Regions from separate parts of the Homo sapiens genome. Here region 1 is linked to region 2. Evidence: fine-mapped QTL for protein levels in blood plasma. A gene starts in region 2. The other region holds a variant in brackets. All regions are shown on one strand. Distances are from middle to middle.

Region 1 (8,309 bases), 30 kb before region 2:
AAACCTCAAAGTTCAATTTACTCTCTTAAAAATCAGGTTCATTGTCATAGGACTTTTGTTCAAAAACATAAGTAAAATTCAAGAAAACATAAAATTATAATTAAACCAAACAAATTTAAGCTGAATGCTATAGTAAGTAAAATATCCAAATTACAGAACACCTGGCTTGGCGCGGTGGCTCACACCTCAGCACTTTGGGAGGCTGAGGCAGGCGGATCACCTGTAGTCAGGAATTCGAGACCAGCCTGGCCAACATATTGAAACCCCGTCTCTACTAAAAATACAAAAATTGAGGCCAGGTGCAGTGGCTCATGCCTGTAATCACAGCACTTTGGGAAGGTGAGGTAGGTGGATCACCTGAGGTCAGGAGTTGAAGACCAGCCTGACCAACAGTGAAACGCTATCTCTACTAAAAATACAAAATCAGCTGGGCATGGTGGCACACGCCTTTAATCCCAGCTACTTGGGAGGCTGAGGCAGGAGAATGGCTTGAACCTGACACAATTCCAAAAAAAACGCTGGAGGTATTGCCCACAGGTCCTCAGGAACCCTATTTTAAATTTTTAAATAAACTAGTTTTTTGCAAAGAGAAGCAACTCTTTTTTTTTTTTTTTTTTTTGAGACAGAGTCTAGCTCTGCGCCCAGGCTGGAGTGCAGTGGCACCATCTCGGCTCACTGCAACCTCCACCTCCTGGGTTCAAGCAAGTCTCCTGCCTCAGCCTCCTGAGTATCTGGGATTACAGGCACATGCCACCACGCCCGGCTAATTTTTGTATTTTTAGTAGAGACAGGGTTTCACTTGTTGGTCAGGCTGGTCTCAATCTCCTGACCTCGGGATCCATCTGCCTGGTCCTCCCAAAGTGCTGGGATTACAGGCGTGAGTCACCGTGCCCGGCGAGAAGCAACTCTTAAAATACTTTATTCCTTCCTCTAGGACCCTTTAAATGGTGAAAATGGGCAGATGAATAGCAATAAGTGGACCTTTGTTACTCTTCTGAGTTAGAAAAATTCTAATTTAGTACACTCTGAACAAAGCTTATTATACTTACTTAAGATGTGTTTTGATTTGGTGTTCAGAAAGCAACCTGACAATGATAATACTGTAACTATGATAAAATTGAGAATAAAAAGATTTTATTTAGAAATCATAAGTCTGGAATTGAGGTTATTTTAGCCCCACAGTAGAGTATCCTGGAGGGCCAGGTCCTCTATGCTATGTGTATGTAATAGGATTTAGGAGCCTAATATTAAGAGAAGACCTTGTTTCCACTCTCTTCAGATGTACTAGTTGGATCCATGATTGGAATGACATTTGCCTATGTCTGCTATCGGCAGTATTATCCTCCTCTGACTGATGCAGAATGCCATAAACCATTTCAAGACAAACTTGTACTTTCCACTGCACAGAAGCCTGGGGATTCTTATTGTTTTGATATTTAAAAATTGAATCTGGCCGGGCGTGGTGGCTCATGCCTGTAATCCCAACACTTTGGGAGGCTGAGGAGGGTGGATCACCTGAGGTCAGGACCAGCCTGGCCAACATGGTGAACCCTGTCTCTACTAAAAATACAAAAATTAGCCAGGAGTTGTGTGCCGTAATCCCAGCTACCTGGGAGGCTGAGGTAGGAGAATTGCTTGAACCTGGGAGCTGGAGGTTCCAGTGAGCCGAGATCGCACCACTGCACTCCAGCCTAGGCAACAGAGTGAGACCCCATCTCAAAAAAAAAAAAAATTGAATCTATCTCAATAGAGAACAGGTGAACTAGCCCTCCTAACCGGACCATGCACAAGACAAGAAATTCTAGCCTTTTTTTCCCCTTCCAAGGTGCAAGTGAGGACATAAGCCACACTGTATTCTGCCTCCAAATGATTACACACTTTTGCCCCTGCTCATCTATCTTGAGGAGTTACGGTTCTTTTCCACTACTGTATGCCACATGTTCTAGTAAAAGGATCTTTCAAAGGTGTCCAACACCTTATGAATCTGGTCTATCAGATTAATATCTGAAGATCTACAGTGTTTTTACATTTAATTTAAATGCCATTCTTAGAAGGATCTTGTCACAAAGAAGCCTTTACATAGCCCCACCTTGTCTCAGAAGCTAGAGTTCATTATCAAAACTTAATTTCCATTTCATATAGCTCAAAATCTTAAAATCTAGGGCATGGCCAACTAAATTACTTTGATTCTGTTTACCTTCTCTGATGACAATTCCATCAAGCCTTAAATAGGAAAATGTCGAATCTAGGGTAATTTATCACTTTTGTGTGCATCTTATCTGAGTCCAGCCATCTGGTACTGCTGTGCATTTTGAACACCGTGGGCATAAACAATTTGTTGAATTACTAAGTGAAAACAATAATAAAGAAGAAAATGGTCAGGAGTGTGGTTTCAGCACTACTAACAGATGACTGTTTCTACCTCATTTGACCATAACTGTACTTGTGAGCTTCTTTCCTTCCATTCATGACTGAAGATCTGCTCAAATGCACCAACACTGCCAAGTGACTAAGGTAGAAAAGAAAAATGACAGGTATCGTCATCTGAAGGACAGATGAATCTTTTTCTGCCCCTTCTTCACAATGGAATATAAGGAACAATTATGGGATGTCATCAGAATGGATGCCATAGGACCTACAGCTCCCTTTCTCTTTATTGTGATTATACTTTAAATATGACATTGTCTTTTATGTGTATGTTCCTATATTTTCAATGTATCTTTTTCCTTCAGTAAACCTGATATTCAAATAAAATGGTAAATGTGTGCTTTTTTAAATATTTAAAGTACATTAAGGGGCTGGAACTTTAGTAAAGCAAAACATTGAATTCCCCATCCGCCCTAAGTGATTCAACTGCTGTTATCTATAGTACTGGCTAATATTTATAAATACCAAAGGAAAGTCTCTTATAATTGCCATGCTTTAAATTCTGAACTTAAATTCTGCCTATGACAATTAAAATACCAGTCAACAGGAAAGAACTTACATATTAGTTCTTTGCCCAAAACCTATTTTTTTGTTTTAGTAATACATAAAGACAGAGAAAATCGTGACTGTACTGATTTTCTTGACTTTGAGACGGGTGAGTCCAGGTAAAAGTAGGCCACTAGTCAATATGGTTTCATGTTAGTATTTACTAAAGTTTTAAATATAATCACGTAGAAAACAAACATTTCAAAAATGCAAAATATTAGAAATCTAATCAGTGCTATTAATCTTTCCATGCAAACAATCTCTTTTGCTGAGATAAGTGATACTAGTTCTGCAGCTGGGAATATGTACAAAATGATGCTGTACCAGAGTTTAAAAATAGGGTTGGTCTAGAGATTGCACATGATACAAATGAAGCAGCGCAAATAATATATGACTAAATACAGGATTTCAATCAAGCTTATCATCCTGGGAATATACAGCTATAATACCATGAATAGACAAGATATAAAGCTCTTTCACAGTTACCCACCCCTCACCACTAGGAAAGAAACATTTCTTAATACAAAGAGTGGTTTATCTGGCTATCCAGGGCTATGCTGTCCATCTTTGGTTATAGGGACTCCCTCTGCTTATCCTTTGGTTTACTCTTAAATAGCACCTATTCTGCCAATAGGAAGAGTAAACATAAATTTGAAGACCACAACTTGGCAAAAGCTTCCCCTTAATATACAGTGAATACTTAATTCTCAATAACTCAGAGTTTATATACCTTTAAAAAAATAAAGTATTCCATATATCTGAAACTTAGTGGCATACTTAGCACTAGACTATAAGCAGATGACAAAGAAAGGCCAGGCCTGACCTATACCCCAACCTTACCTCTACAATCTCCATGGTGACAGTAATTACCCTTCATTTTCCTTTTCTTTCCAGAAAGGGATAAAGACCACTGCTGTCTAAGGAATGGCTTCAGTAAATATTAAATGTCAGTGGCTTTGAATACCATAACATTTATAAAAAAATTTATAAACAATAAACCACAGCTCGCCTGCCTTTGCCACTCTATAAACAGAGGCCTGTGGAATCTGAGAGCAAGTATAAAGGATTATCATAAAGAGAACTACAAAGACAATGACAAACTGACCAATGAAGAAGAAAAATCTACAGCAAAGTAGTGAAAAGATGCCTTGACAAAATTAGTGTGCAGTCACTTGTGTTCTTAGAAGTAAACCTCACTTCATATGTTCCAGACTCAGCTGACACTGACTCTGGAATAGCTGTTTCTTGGACCCTACAGACATAAGTTTTTCTTTCAGAACAAGTTAAACATTTCCCCCTAGCCAAACCTACCTGCTCAACCAATGCTGCCCGTGCCAAGAGCCTTTTAAATATGCTTTGTGGATTATGGATACCTAAGAAGGAAAGAGGATACACAATACTACCTTAGCTCAAGTAGAAATGGCAGGTGACAAATTCTGTTTCACCATAAAGGCACCACTAAAAGGTTTTATTTAGAACCTCAGCAGCCTGTAGAGGCTACACAATTTCAGGTTCATCAGCTTTTACAACTATTTTCAACGTAAGAATAGAAGCTATTAGCAAATAACTTCTATCAAATATAAAAGGGAGGCCTAGGATATACAACATCTTTGCTTTATAAAGATGCACCTAACATGAACTAACTTGTCAACTTTAGACTCTTACAGCAGCTCAAACAGTTGCAAAAACAATGAACATCAGTGATTTCTGGCAATAAGTCTGTCAGTTCTAAGAGAGTAAACAACACTTTTTTAAAGCTACATTCTAGTCTTTCTTCATACACTACACATAAGAAAGAAATGCAGGTTCAAAAATAAATCACCCAAAAGTCTTTTCCATGTCCACTGAGACTTAGCCTTCAGTTCAACACAA[ACAAG/G]AGATAAGTGTACTCCAAAATGCCTTCTGAATCTCAAGAATCTGTTTCCAAACTAGAACATTTTCTAAAGATAAGCAATAAGTTCCTTAAAAACATGTCTACCCCACCCAAAACAAATCAAACCCAAAATAGGCTTTACACCCTGTCAAGTACTAATCAATAAAGTGTGGCAACTATAAACTATCATCAAAGAATTAAAGACACAAACCACCCCCAGCTATGCAGAAAAAAATGGCAAGTGTTTATATGAAGCCAGTGGTTAAAAGTAATAGGGCCTTTTGCTTTTCCATTCATTTCCAAAGAGGAAGATTATCTTCCAAAGACCCCAGTGGTGAGTAAGTGGCAGGCAACATGCAGGAAATGACGCAGCTGAGGAGAGGAAAATTGCAGCAACAAACAGGTGGATTTTCTGGGGAAGGATCCCTCAATGTCCGTCTAGGGAAGAAAGTGGGAGAAGAGCTGCAGTCACAACTGGAAGGCAACCACAGAGAATGCCAGAGTCGAATACACAGACTTTGTAATTTCACATCTAAAAGGCTGAGTAATTTAAATCTCAGGATGGGTGGTTGGTAATTAAAATCATAACTGTTGCCACAGTAACTCTTAGATAACAGAACCATTAAAACTCTGAGTTTAGATCCTAAAAAATGACAGGTGTCATTGGACAAAATCTCTAGCAAAACAGACATACACTAATCTTCCTCTAAATGGGCTACTGTGTTTTTTTCCCCATGAATTTCTACCAGTCCCTCTAAAAATGAATAGCAGCCTAGATCTTGGTGACAGGCAACAGCTAGTATATTTAAAAAGAGCTTGAGGCTCCATAGTTCATTATAACATGTTAATATGTAAGAATTACACTATATATATGACATTTTAAAACTTACATTAAGCAGCCATAGATGGGTCATTTTTACTGTAAAGGCTGATCAAGGAAGATACCCTGGGTTTGGTAGATCTCTTTGAGGACGAGCAATACTGTATCTTCAGACTCCCTATAAAGAGAAAAAATTATGTTGAGAAAAGGAACTAACACTTGTGCCAAATGTTTTACATATATTATCTCATTTAATCCATACAACCATCTTGCAAGTTTATTTTTTACTTCTGCAAAGAAATGAGATTCAGAAGTAATGTAATTGGCAGTGGTTTGGAAGGTGACCTGGCAAAGAACTCTGGCATTAAGTCTAGTAATATAAAAAAGCTAGGAAGAGAGGCCAGGTGCGGTGGCTCATGCCTGTAATCCTAACACTCTGGGAGGCTGAGGTGGACAAGTCACTACAGGTCTGGAATTTGAGCCAGCCTGGCCAACATGGTGAAACCCCATCTCCACTAAAAATACAAAAACTAGGGCTGGGCACGGTGGCTCACGCCTGTAGTCCCAGCACTTTGGGAGGCCAAGGTGGGTGGATCACAAGGTCAGGAGTTTGAGACCAGCCTGGCCAATATGGTGAAACCCCATCTCTACTAAAAATACAAAAATTAGCAGGGTGTGGTGGTATGCGCCTGTAGTCCCAGTTACTGGGGAGACTGAGGCAGAAGAATTGCTTGAACCCAGGAAGCGGAGGTTGCAGTGAGCCGAGATTGCACCACTGCACTCCAGCCTGGCAGATAGGCGAGACTCCGTCTAAAAAAAAAAAAAAAAAACTAGCCAGGCGTGGCAGCATGCGACTGTAGTCCCAGCTACTCAGGAGGCTGAGGCAGGAGAATCGCTTGAACCGAGGAGGCAAAGGTTGCAGTGAGCCGAAGGTTGCAGAGTGTCACTGCACTTCAGCCTGGGCGACAGAGTGAGACTCCATTTCAAAAAAAAAAAAAGCCAGTAAGAAATAACCAAGAATTGTTCCTTTTCCACAGAGATCATTCTAGAGACACTATTGAAGAGTTATCCAGTTGGTCACCTTAATTTTTAAAATATTATGCACTTTTTGGAAAAGGTAATACAATCATAAGGTTCCAAATTCCAACAATATAAGAAAGTAACGAAGTCTCCCTCCCACCTTTGTTCCTCAACCACCACCAGTTCCCATCTTCTGACAACCAATGTTATCAATTTCTCATGCGTTTTCCAGATATTATTCTACGTATGCACAAGCAATTACTTATATCCACACTTCATAACAAAATTTGATTTAAAAAGATTAACACTCATGAGGGACTGCCTTAAGGATATAAGCCTCTATTATTCTTCTAGATCTGTGGTTCAACATTTATTGAGTCATGCATCCTTTTGAGAATCTAATGAAATTACGGATTCTTCCCCAGAAAGGATCACATTGCAACCACAATTATAAATGTGTATTTCATTGGATTCACAGACTTCCCTCATCTCCCACAAACTCATATACACAGACCCCAGCTTAAGAAATTCCTGTATCAACAAGTGGGAATTAGCTCTATCAGATATTAAAATGGTACATAAATAAGCAAATCAACAAGTAAGAAGTTGAGAAATAGTCCCATTTATGTATAGGAATTTAATTAAGTGGCCAGGCACGGTGGCTCACACCTATAATCCTAACACTGGGAGGTCGAGGCAGGCAGATCACCTGAGGTCAGGCGTTCGAGACCAGCCTGGCCAACATAGTGAAACCCCATCTCTACTAAAAATACAAAAATTAGCTGGGCATGGTGGCACATGCCTATAGTCCCGGCTACTCAAGAAGCTGAGGCAGGAAAATCATTTGAACCCAGATGGCGTAGGTTGCAGTGAGCCAACTACTGCACTACTGCACTTCAGCCTGGGCAACACAGCAAGACTCTGTCTCAAAAAAAAAAAAAAGAATTTAATTAATTTAATTTAGAATCTCAAATCTATTAATAGTGTTGAGACGTGGGGAAAAAAGGACCTGAATCTGAATCAAAGATTTATATGTAAAAATTAGATATAAAATATTAGAATAGCCAGGCATGGTGTTGCACACCTGCAGTCCCAACTACTCAGGAGGCCAAGGCAAGAGGATTGCTTGAGCCCAGGAATTCAAGGGTCTAGTGCACTAAGATCATGCCTGTGAGAAGCCACTGCATGCAAGATCCTGTTTCTAAAAAAAATTATATATATAACAATATACTGTGTTGGCTGGGTGCAGTGGCTCACGCCTGTAATCCCAGCACTTTGGGAGGCTGAGGTGGGATCACTTGAGGTCAGGAGTTTGAGACCAGCCTGACCAACATGGTGAAACCCTGTCTCTACTAAAAAGACAAAATTAGCCAGGTATGGTGGTGCACACCTGTAATGCTGGCTACTTGGGAGGCTGAGGCAGGAGAATCACTTGAACCTGGCAGGCAGAGGTTGCAGTGAGCCGAGATCACACCATTGCACTCTGGCCTGGGCAACAGGGTGAGATTCCATCTCAAAAAAAAAAAAAAAAAAAATACTGTGGTAAGAATTTTTTTGGAAAGTAAGGAAGATCTTTCTGAGTATGACACAAATTCCAGAAACCAAAAAGCAAATGACAACACA
Region 2 (8,337 bases):
AGGTCAGGAGCTTGAGACCATCCTGGCTAACACGGTGAAACCCCGTCTCTACTAAAAATACAAAAAATTAGCTGGGCGTGGTGGCGGGCGCCTGTAGTCCCAGCTACTTGGGAGGCTGAGACAGGAGAATGGCAAGAACCCAGGAGGCAGAGCTTGCAATGAGCCAAGATCGTGCCACTGCACTCCAGCCTGGGAAACAGAACGACACTCTTGTTTCAACAACAACAAAAAATACTAACGCTCTACTCCAATTTAAAGAAAAATTTCAGTTTTCAGAGCAAGAAAAATAAAAGCTAAAAAAGATCAATCCTGTGACCATAGCATAATACAGTTTGCATTTGTATTTGTGTGTGTGTGTGTGTGTGTGTGTGTGCGCGTGTACTTTTTTTTGTAGTGGTGGGGTCTTGCTTTGTTGCCCAGGCTGTTCTCAAATTCCTGGGCTCAAGTCATCCTCCTGCCTTGGCCTCACAATGTGCTGGGATTACAGGTGAGAGCCACTGTGCCCACCAGTTTTTTTTTTTTTTTTTGAGATGGAGTTTTGCTCGTTGCCCAGGCTGTAGTTCAATGGTGCGATCTCCACTCACCACAACCTCCACCTCCCGGGTTCAAGCAATTCTCTTGCCTCAGCCTCCCAAGTAGCTGGGATTACAGGCGTGCACCACCGTGCCCAGCTAATTTTGTATTTTTAGTAGAGACGAGGTTTCTCCATGTTGGTCAGGCTGGTCTCAAACTCCCAACCTCAGGTGATCCGCCCACCTCAGCCCCCCAAACTGCTGGGATTACAGGCGTGAGCCACCAGGCCCGGAGTATTTTTTTCTTTTTTTACACCTTAAAACACCACAACCATTTCCATCGTATTTTAAAATCTGAAAAAGGCCAAGCACAGTAGCTCACACCTGTAATCCCAGCACTTTGGGAGGCCGAGGCCAGCAGATCATTTGAGGTCAGGAGTTCGAGACAAGCCTAGCCAACATGGTGAAACCCCATCTCTAATAAAAATCAGTAGGAACAACTCTCCCATTACAATATTTTCCTTTCAAGGATTGAAAAGGGGAAAAGAAGTACATATTTCAAAATAAATCTCCCAACATACAATTCTGAGTTATATTCTAAATAATGTTATGAAACACATGAATGAACAGTTCCTACTTGGCTAAACACCAAACAAAATGGAATCTAATTCATATCTTTTTCACTACCTACTTTACAAACCGTCAAACCATTCCTGATTTTAATGAAACATGAAAAAAAATACTACCCAAACAGTTTTGTTCTTTTTCTGAGGAAAGATAGCAGTGCCCCTTAAAAAAAATTAGCCAGGTGTGGTGGCGGCCACCTGTAATCCCAGCTACTTGGGAGGCTGAGGCATGAGAATCACTTGAACCGGGGAGGTGGAGGTTGCAGTGAGCCAAGATCGCACCACTGCACTCCAGCCTGGGCAACAGAGCGAGACTCCGTCTCAAAAAAAAAAAAAAAATCTGAAAATAAGACTACTTTATCCTGAAACTTGCTTGTAAATAGAAATGCTTTATTATGTTTTATAATGTGATGCAGACAGAACCAAAGTCTTTCTGGAAATTTCACAAAATAAATTACAAAGGAAAGAAAAGATTATTAAATAAGAGAAAGAAAGAATAAGTAAAAAAAGAGTCAAAAGAATACCTCTAAAACTTGGCTGAAGCTCTCCGAGTAGGGAACATACTTATTGTCTTTGTCCCCCTTGTAAAACCACGTACATCGTCTCACTTCCGATGCCAGTTCATCCCAGTATACAGCATACCGCATCCTCTCCCCCAAATGAACATCATATCTGCCCCCATCAGTAGGAACAACTCTCCCATTACAACCTTTTCCTTTCAAGGATTGAAAAGGGGAAAAGAAGTACATATTTCAAAATAAATCTCCCAACATACAATTCTCAGTTATACTCTAAATAATGTTATGAAACACATGAATGAAAAGTTCCTACTTGACTAAACACCAAACAAAATGGAATTTAATTCATATCTTTTTCACTACCTACTTTACAAACCGTCAAAACCATTCCTGATTTTAATGAAATATGAAAAAAATACTACCCAGTTTTGTTCTTTTTCTGGGGAAAGATAGCAGTGCCCCTTAAAAAAATTATATAATGTGATTTTTCTGAATTTGCTTGAGGAACCATAAGGTAAATTAATAACCATCATGATGATTCAGTATAAATAGAATCATTCTTGTTTTATAAAAGAAGAAAAGACAAGTGACAAGTTAGAGAGTTCATTCTTCTGCACCCCACTCTATACATACTTTTTTCTTTTCTTTTCTTTTTTTTTTTTTGAGACAAGTCTCACTCTATCACCCAGGCTGGAGTCCAGTGGCACAATCTTGGCTCACTGTAACCTCCGCCTCCCGGGTTTGAGCAATTCTCCTGCCTCAGCCTCCCAGGTAGCTGAGACTACAGGCACAAACCCCGCCGCCCAGCTAATTTTTGTATTTTTAGTAGAGAAGGGGTTTCACCATTGCTGGCCAGGCTAATCTCAAACTCTGACCTCAAGTGATCTGCTCGCCTTGGCCTCCCAAAGTGCTGGGATTACAGGTGTGAGCCACTGTGCCCAGCCTTACACATTCTTTATAAAACAAAGTAAAACATAAGCTAGAACATTAAAGATATTACTGGGGGGCTGGGCACAGGGTGTAACACGCCTGTAATCCCAGCACTTTGGGAGGCCCAGTCAGAAAGATTGCTTGAACCTAGGAGTTCAAGACCAGCCTAGACAATATAATTAGGCCCCCAACTCTAAGGAAAAAAAAATTATTGGGTAACTATGCAGAAATAATAATAGATACTGTTTTCAAAATACAGACCAAATTCTTGAATATTATTGATTGGCTAGGTATTAGTGCAGAAGTTCTATATAAAATGCTGTAAGAAATTATGTAACTGGAAAAATCTAAAATTTGGTTTTCATAGCACTCACTATAAGGACCATTATATTATAGTTTGAAGAGGGGAGAGTCTTTGTCTATTCCAAGTCATAATTTTCACCTACCAGAGCTATATGCCTCTTCCAGCTGCTGTGAATCCTCAGAGTTGAAAGGAATCCATGTCTCCTTAGAATCTATTATCTTACAATAAAACCAATGGGGAGAAACTGGTTCATACAAGCTGCCAGCATCCATGTCTATTAGCTCAAAGGAACTACATGAGTTTGGTGACGGAGATGGATCTGACTGGGACAACTGCTCCTGTTGTGACTGCACTGATGACATTTCGCTCTCTAAAGACAAAAGAAAACTATCAGGAAAACGAACTTAACTGTGTAACTGTTCGCACACACACACGCACAAAACTAATCATTTTACGGAGCCATTTCTGCAACAACAACAACAACAAAATCTACATAATTTAAAAGAGAAATAACATAAATTAGCAACTGGATGGGTGGAAGCTTTAAATAAAATGCTTCTATTAGATCAACCATTGCACAGAGTTCTCAATTCTCTCAGTAAACTGGGTAATTTTACTCAGTCCATAAGTTATAAAACAAACCCAGAATCACAGGACCACATGCTCGAAACTAGATTGCAACAAAAACATTTTACCCTAATTTCCAATCTAAATGTAGTTAAAGGCAGAAAATTTACTCCAAGTCAGCTGGGTCATGCCCTGTCCTAGTAACGCCAAGGTTTTGGGCTCCAGGCCCCTACCATTACACAACTAATGGAATCTTAAAATACAAAAAATAAAACTGTTCGCTTAGGAACCAATCATTTTTGATGGATCCTTGAAGTCGCTTAATGGGTGGTGGTACAAATTGGGAAAAGACGAAACCTCGCCTGGGGCCACGGTGCGCACACGCACGCCCACTCCCATAGCCAGAATCTCAGATGAAAGCTAACAAGCGACCTCAAAAGCCTCCTCCCGCAGAGGCGGCTCTGACCAGCTGTTTCTACCTCTCCAACACTCCTTCCACTCGGCAACGATCAGCGCCGCAGGCACCAGAAGGACACTTCTAAGCTGCCTCGTAGGGCGGGGGGCAGGAGGGCATCTCGCGCGGGCCCGGCGGGACGGCAGACGCCGGCTTTCGGCTCCATTGTCCTTTTCCCCACACAGACTTACCTCAGCCACCCTGGCGCGCCCCTGGCCCCCGCGACCCTAGGCCCTGGCGCCCCGCTCCGGGCCCTCGGAGCTCGGGCTCAGGTCGTCCGCCCGCAGCCCCGCGACAGCAGCAGGGCAGCCAGTGCAGACCACAGGGTTCACAGGGTGCCCAGGGTTCCCCCAGGCTCGGGGCTTCCCGGGAGCCGAGGTTCCCCCGCCCCGCATCCCGGCCCCGCAGCGCTGCGCCGCCCACCTGCACCCAGCCTGGCCTCCCTCGGTCCAGCCGCCCGCCCGACGCGGTCTCACCTGGCGGCCCCGCCACTCCTCAGGCTCTCCTGCCCTCCCTGAGGAGGACACTGCATGGCCCGGCCGCGGCCTTTACCCCAGCCCGGGCGGGGCGCGGCGGAGCAGGGCGGAACCTGCAGCCCCGCCGGGCTCGCGCCGAACACCAGGCGCCACGGCGCTCCCAGTGGGCGAGTAGCGGGCCCGGATGCCAGGCGAAAAGGTGAGGCGGCGGGGAGCGCGGCGCGCGACCGCGGGTGGGGCGTGCAGGGCCGCAGGGCACGGGCGGCAAGTGTCGCGAGAGGTGGGGGGAGTCGCGCGAGACGTGGCTCCTGCGGGCAGGGAGCTGCAGCGCCGGGCGGCGGGCTGCTGGCTGCTGAGGTCTAACAGTGGGGGAGAGTTTCGAGTGTCCGTGGCGGAAGGGGCTTCGAGATCAGTTTCTAGTATCCGTGACGGCAGGGGCTTCAAGATCAGTTTCGAGTGTCCGTGGCGGAAGAGGCTTCAAGGCGGCCCCTCACGTACGGGGCGGGAAAGTCGGAATGATCCTCGGGATACGCTACAGACCCTACTAGTGCGCCAGGAGCAGCGCGGTGATCACCGGACGCAGGGACTGCGCGGCCCCGGGATTAGCGGAGTAGGGCGGAGGGCGCAGCCACAGCCGCCCCGCTCCTGGCCTCTGCTTCTGGGTGCTGAGAACGGGTGTCACTAGCATTTGCCAGGCAAAAAGGCTTTGGCCCGTCCTCCGTGCATTTATTATGATTTAGAGGTTACCAAAAAGGTATCCCTAAAAAATGTAGAGGTGTCGGGCGTGGTGTCAGCGCCTGGGTCTGAGCTACTCAGGAGGCTGAGGCTGAAGGAGCGCCCCAGCCCATTGGTGCCAGCTGCATGAGCCCAGATGGCGCCAGTGCACTCCAGCCTGGGTAACACTGCGACACTAGTCTCTAAACAAACAATAAAATTAATAATTTTTTTTTGTTTTGTTTTGTAGAGGCAACCTTAACAGGATTTAAAAGATGCCAGGGAGGTTGGAGATGAGATACTGCTGTCCAAACAGGAAGACATAACTGAGGTGAAAAGTTGAAAGGGGCTGGACGCAGTGGCTCACGCTTGTAATCCCAACACTTTGGGAGGCCAGGAGTTCAAGACCAGCCTGGCCAACATGGTGAAACGGCATCTCTACTAAAAATATAAAAATTAGCCGGGGGTGGTGGCTCGCGCCTGTAATTCCAGCTGCTTGGGAGGCTGAGGTGGGAGGATCACTTGAACCCGGGAGGCGGAGGTTGCAGTGAGCCAAGATCGCAGCCACTGCACTCCAGCCTGGGCAACAGAGGGAGACTCCATCTCAAAAAAAGAAAAAAAGAGAAATTTCCCGCAGTCATGAGGTCGAGTACAGGCCCTGCCCGACTCTCCTTAGTATTTCATTTTAATACCTTTTGGTATTTAAAAAGATATTTTCCTATATTCTAACTAGATTATAGGGCATTTTTTTTCAGTTTTTGTGTTTTTGTTTTTTGTTTTTTGTTTTTGAGACGGAGTCTCACTATGTCACCCGGCTGGAGTGCAGTAGCACGATCTCGGCTCACTGCAACCTCCGCCTCCCAGATTCAAGCGATTCTCCTGCCTCAGCCTCCGGAATAGCTGGGATTATAGGCATGCGCCACCGCGCCCAGCTAATTTTTGTATTTTTACTAGAGACGGGGTTTCACCATGTTGGCCAGGATGGTCTCGATCTCTTGACCTCGTGATCCACCCGCCTCGGCCTCCCAAAGTGCTGGGATTACAGGCGTGAGCCACCTTGCCCGGCCTATTTCAGTTTTGTTATTTCTTCACAAACAGAAAAAGAAAACAATTTTTTATAACACATTTATTCTCTTTGCAAATTAACAGCCACACACAAATATCCCCAAGTTAACACCTTCCCTTCAAATTTATTACACTTAGAATAGCTTCTGCAAGGCCGGGCACAGCGGCTCACGCCTGTTAATCTCAGCACTTTGGGAGGCCCAGGCAGGCCGATTTAGCAAGGGGTGGAGCTAAAATCACGAACCCACACAGTGTGACTTCAGAGCCTGCACCTAAGTAACTTGTCTAAAATCAGTCAGGTAAGTGACAGAACTGGAACTTGAATTTAGGTTTTCTATCTTCAAATCCTGTTGTAGCCTCCATACCAGCTGTTCTCAAATTTGGAGGGCTGTCTCAAAAAAAAAGTGGATTGCAATGTGCAGTTTGAAAATATATCAGTAAACTTCACATATTCTGATACTATTAAAATCCATTTTTCTGTCTTGCACTTTGTTTTATTTTTGTTGTTTTGAGTAAAGTGAAAGCAAGTTTATTAAGAAAGTAAAGGAATAAAAGAATGGCTACTCCATAGGCAAAGCAGCCTATCTTGCACTTTGAATGGATCTCTTACCCATGTGTGACTTAAGACATGTATTGTTCATTTGGGAAAGTATCAGTTCACTGAGCTATGTAGATCTTCCAAATGTTAATATATTTTATTATACAATTTTTTAAAAATTACCGATCTCATCAGAAAAGTCTTTAATATTGGGAAGCTGTCAAGCTCAGAGTAGCAGGTACAAGTTTTCCAATATTCTGCTTTTTTCTTAAAAGGTCAAATTTTATCATTGGCAACAAATGATAAATTGTCTTCCTTGAAGTGACAAGTCTCCTTTGTTTTCAAATAAATTTCTGCTAAATACTTACATACAAATAGCCATAGTTTGTCCCTTATACTTTCAAATAAAAATGATGTTGCATGAAAAAAGAGCATCTAGTTCAGCTTCCAATTCAAATAGTCACTCAAGTTCTTTTTCTTCAAGACACCACCATCTTACTTTTGGTATGCAACAAAATGGTTTTATGGGCCACAGTGACTCATGCTGTAATCAAGCACTTTGGGAGGCTGAGGCTGGCGGATTGCATGAGTCCAGAAGTTTGAGACCATCCTGAGCAACATGACGAAACCCACCTCTAAAAAAAAAAAAAAAAATTAGCTGAGCATGGTGGCACAGACCTATAGTCCCAACTACTCAGATGGCTGAGGCGGGAGAATGGCTTGAGCCCAGGAAGGGGAGGTTGCAGTGAGCCGTAATCACTATATCTGGTTAATTTTTAAATTTTTCTTAGAGACAGGGTCTCACTACATTGCCCAGTCTGGTCTTGAACTCTAGGCTCAAGTGATCCTCCCACTTCGGCCTCCTAAAGTGCCCAGCAGGAATCTGCATTTTAAATAGTTACCACACATGATCTGGATGCAAGTATTTGGGATCCACACAGTATAAATTTTAGGTTCCCCAAAAGTCTGCATACATAGGTAGTTTCAGACAAATAGAATATCTTACTGTGCCCCTTAAAAATAAAAACCCATGGCCGGGCGCGGTGGCTCATGCCTGTAAAAACTTTGGGAGGCTGAGGCGGGTGGATCACGAAGTCAGGAGATCGAGACCATCCTGGCTAACACGGTGAAACCCTGTTTCTGCTAAAAATACAAAAAATTAGCCAGGCTTGGTGGTGGGCTCCTGTAGTCCCAGCTACTCAAGAGGCTGAGGCAGGAGAATGGTGTGAACCCGGGAGGCGGAGCTTGCAGTGGCTGAGATCTTGCCACTGCACTGCAGCCTGGGCGACAGAGCGAGACTCTGTCTTAAATAATAAATAATAAAAACACACTTAATGTTACTGGCTGTTGTTTGTGGTTGTATATCAGCCTTTTACCAGACAAGCCTTAACAGGTAAAATGTAAAACAATCTCTACTTTTTCCCTTTCAATGTTCTAGTGCAAGAGGCAGCGAACTTTTTTTCTGTAAAGGGCCAGATAAATTCTTTAGGTTCTGTAGGCCATAAGGCTCTGTCACAACTAATCACTTCTCCTGTTGCAGCACTAAAGCAACCAGAGAGGAGATGTAAACTGATGAGTGTGGCTGTGTCCCAGTAAAGTGCAGGCAGGGGTTTAATTTGATCTCAGGTAGTAG

Alleles and levels. Positions count from the first base shown, and alleles are read on the strand shown. Strength reflects both the effect of a copy and how common the allele is.
For the plasma level of the protein whose gene starts at base 4,662 in region 2, ACAAG is the low allele of the variant in region 1 and G is the other (weak association).

Evidence for each region. A credible set is the group of variants that fine-mapping cannot tell apart. PIP is the posterior inclusion probability: the model's chance that the variant is causal. The UK Biobank Pharma Proteomics Project read protein levels with antibody pairs (Olink). The fine-mapping took linkage between variants from a reference panel, not from the people measured, so its PIPs are less certain.
Region 1: its variant is the best candidate, but not a certain one, in a credible set for the plasma level of the DDHD2 protein (UK Biobank, PIP 0.74).

Annotation. Positions count from the first base shown.
Region 1 is chr8:38,257,575-38,265,883 of GRCh38, reverse strand. DDHD2 (DDHD domain containing 2) reads right to left here. Exons shown (of 18, transcript NM_015214.3): 17 at 5,737-5,844; 18 at 3,048-5,284. The coding sequence ends at 5,763. PLPP5 (phospholipid phosphatase 5) reads left to right here. Exons shown (of 7, transcript NM_001102559.2): 7 at 1,280-2,754. The coding sequence ends at 1,440. Among named protein-coding and RNA genes, the nearest start is that of PLPP5, 7.5 kb to the left of the region's middle. The variant ACAAG/G (reference allele first, on the strand shown) is at 4,846.
Region 2 is chr8:38,227,910-38,236,246 of GRCh38, reverse strand. It overlaps DDHD2 (DDHD domain containing 2), which reads right to left and starts at 4,662. Exons shown (of 18, transcript NM_015214.3): 1 at 4,388-4,662; 2 at 3,033-3,260; 3 at 1,663-1,853. The coding sequence starts at 3,252. RefSeq lists an enhancer at 3,861-4,360 and silencers at 4,020-4,689, 5,260-5,309.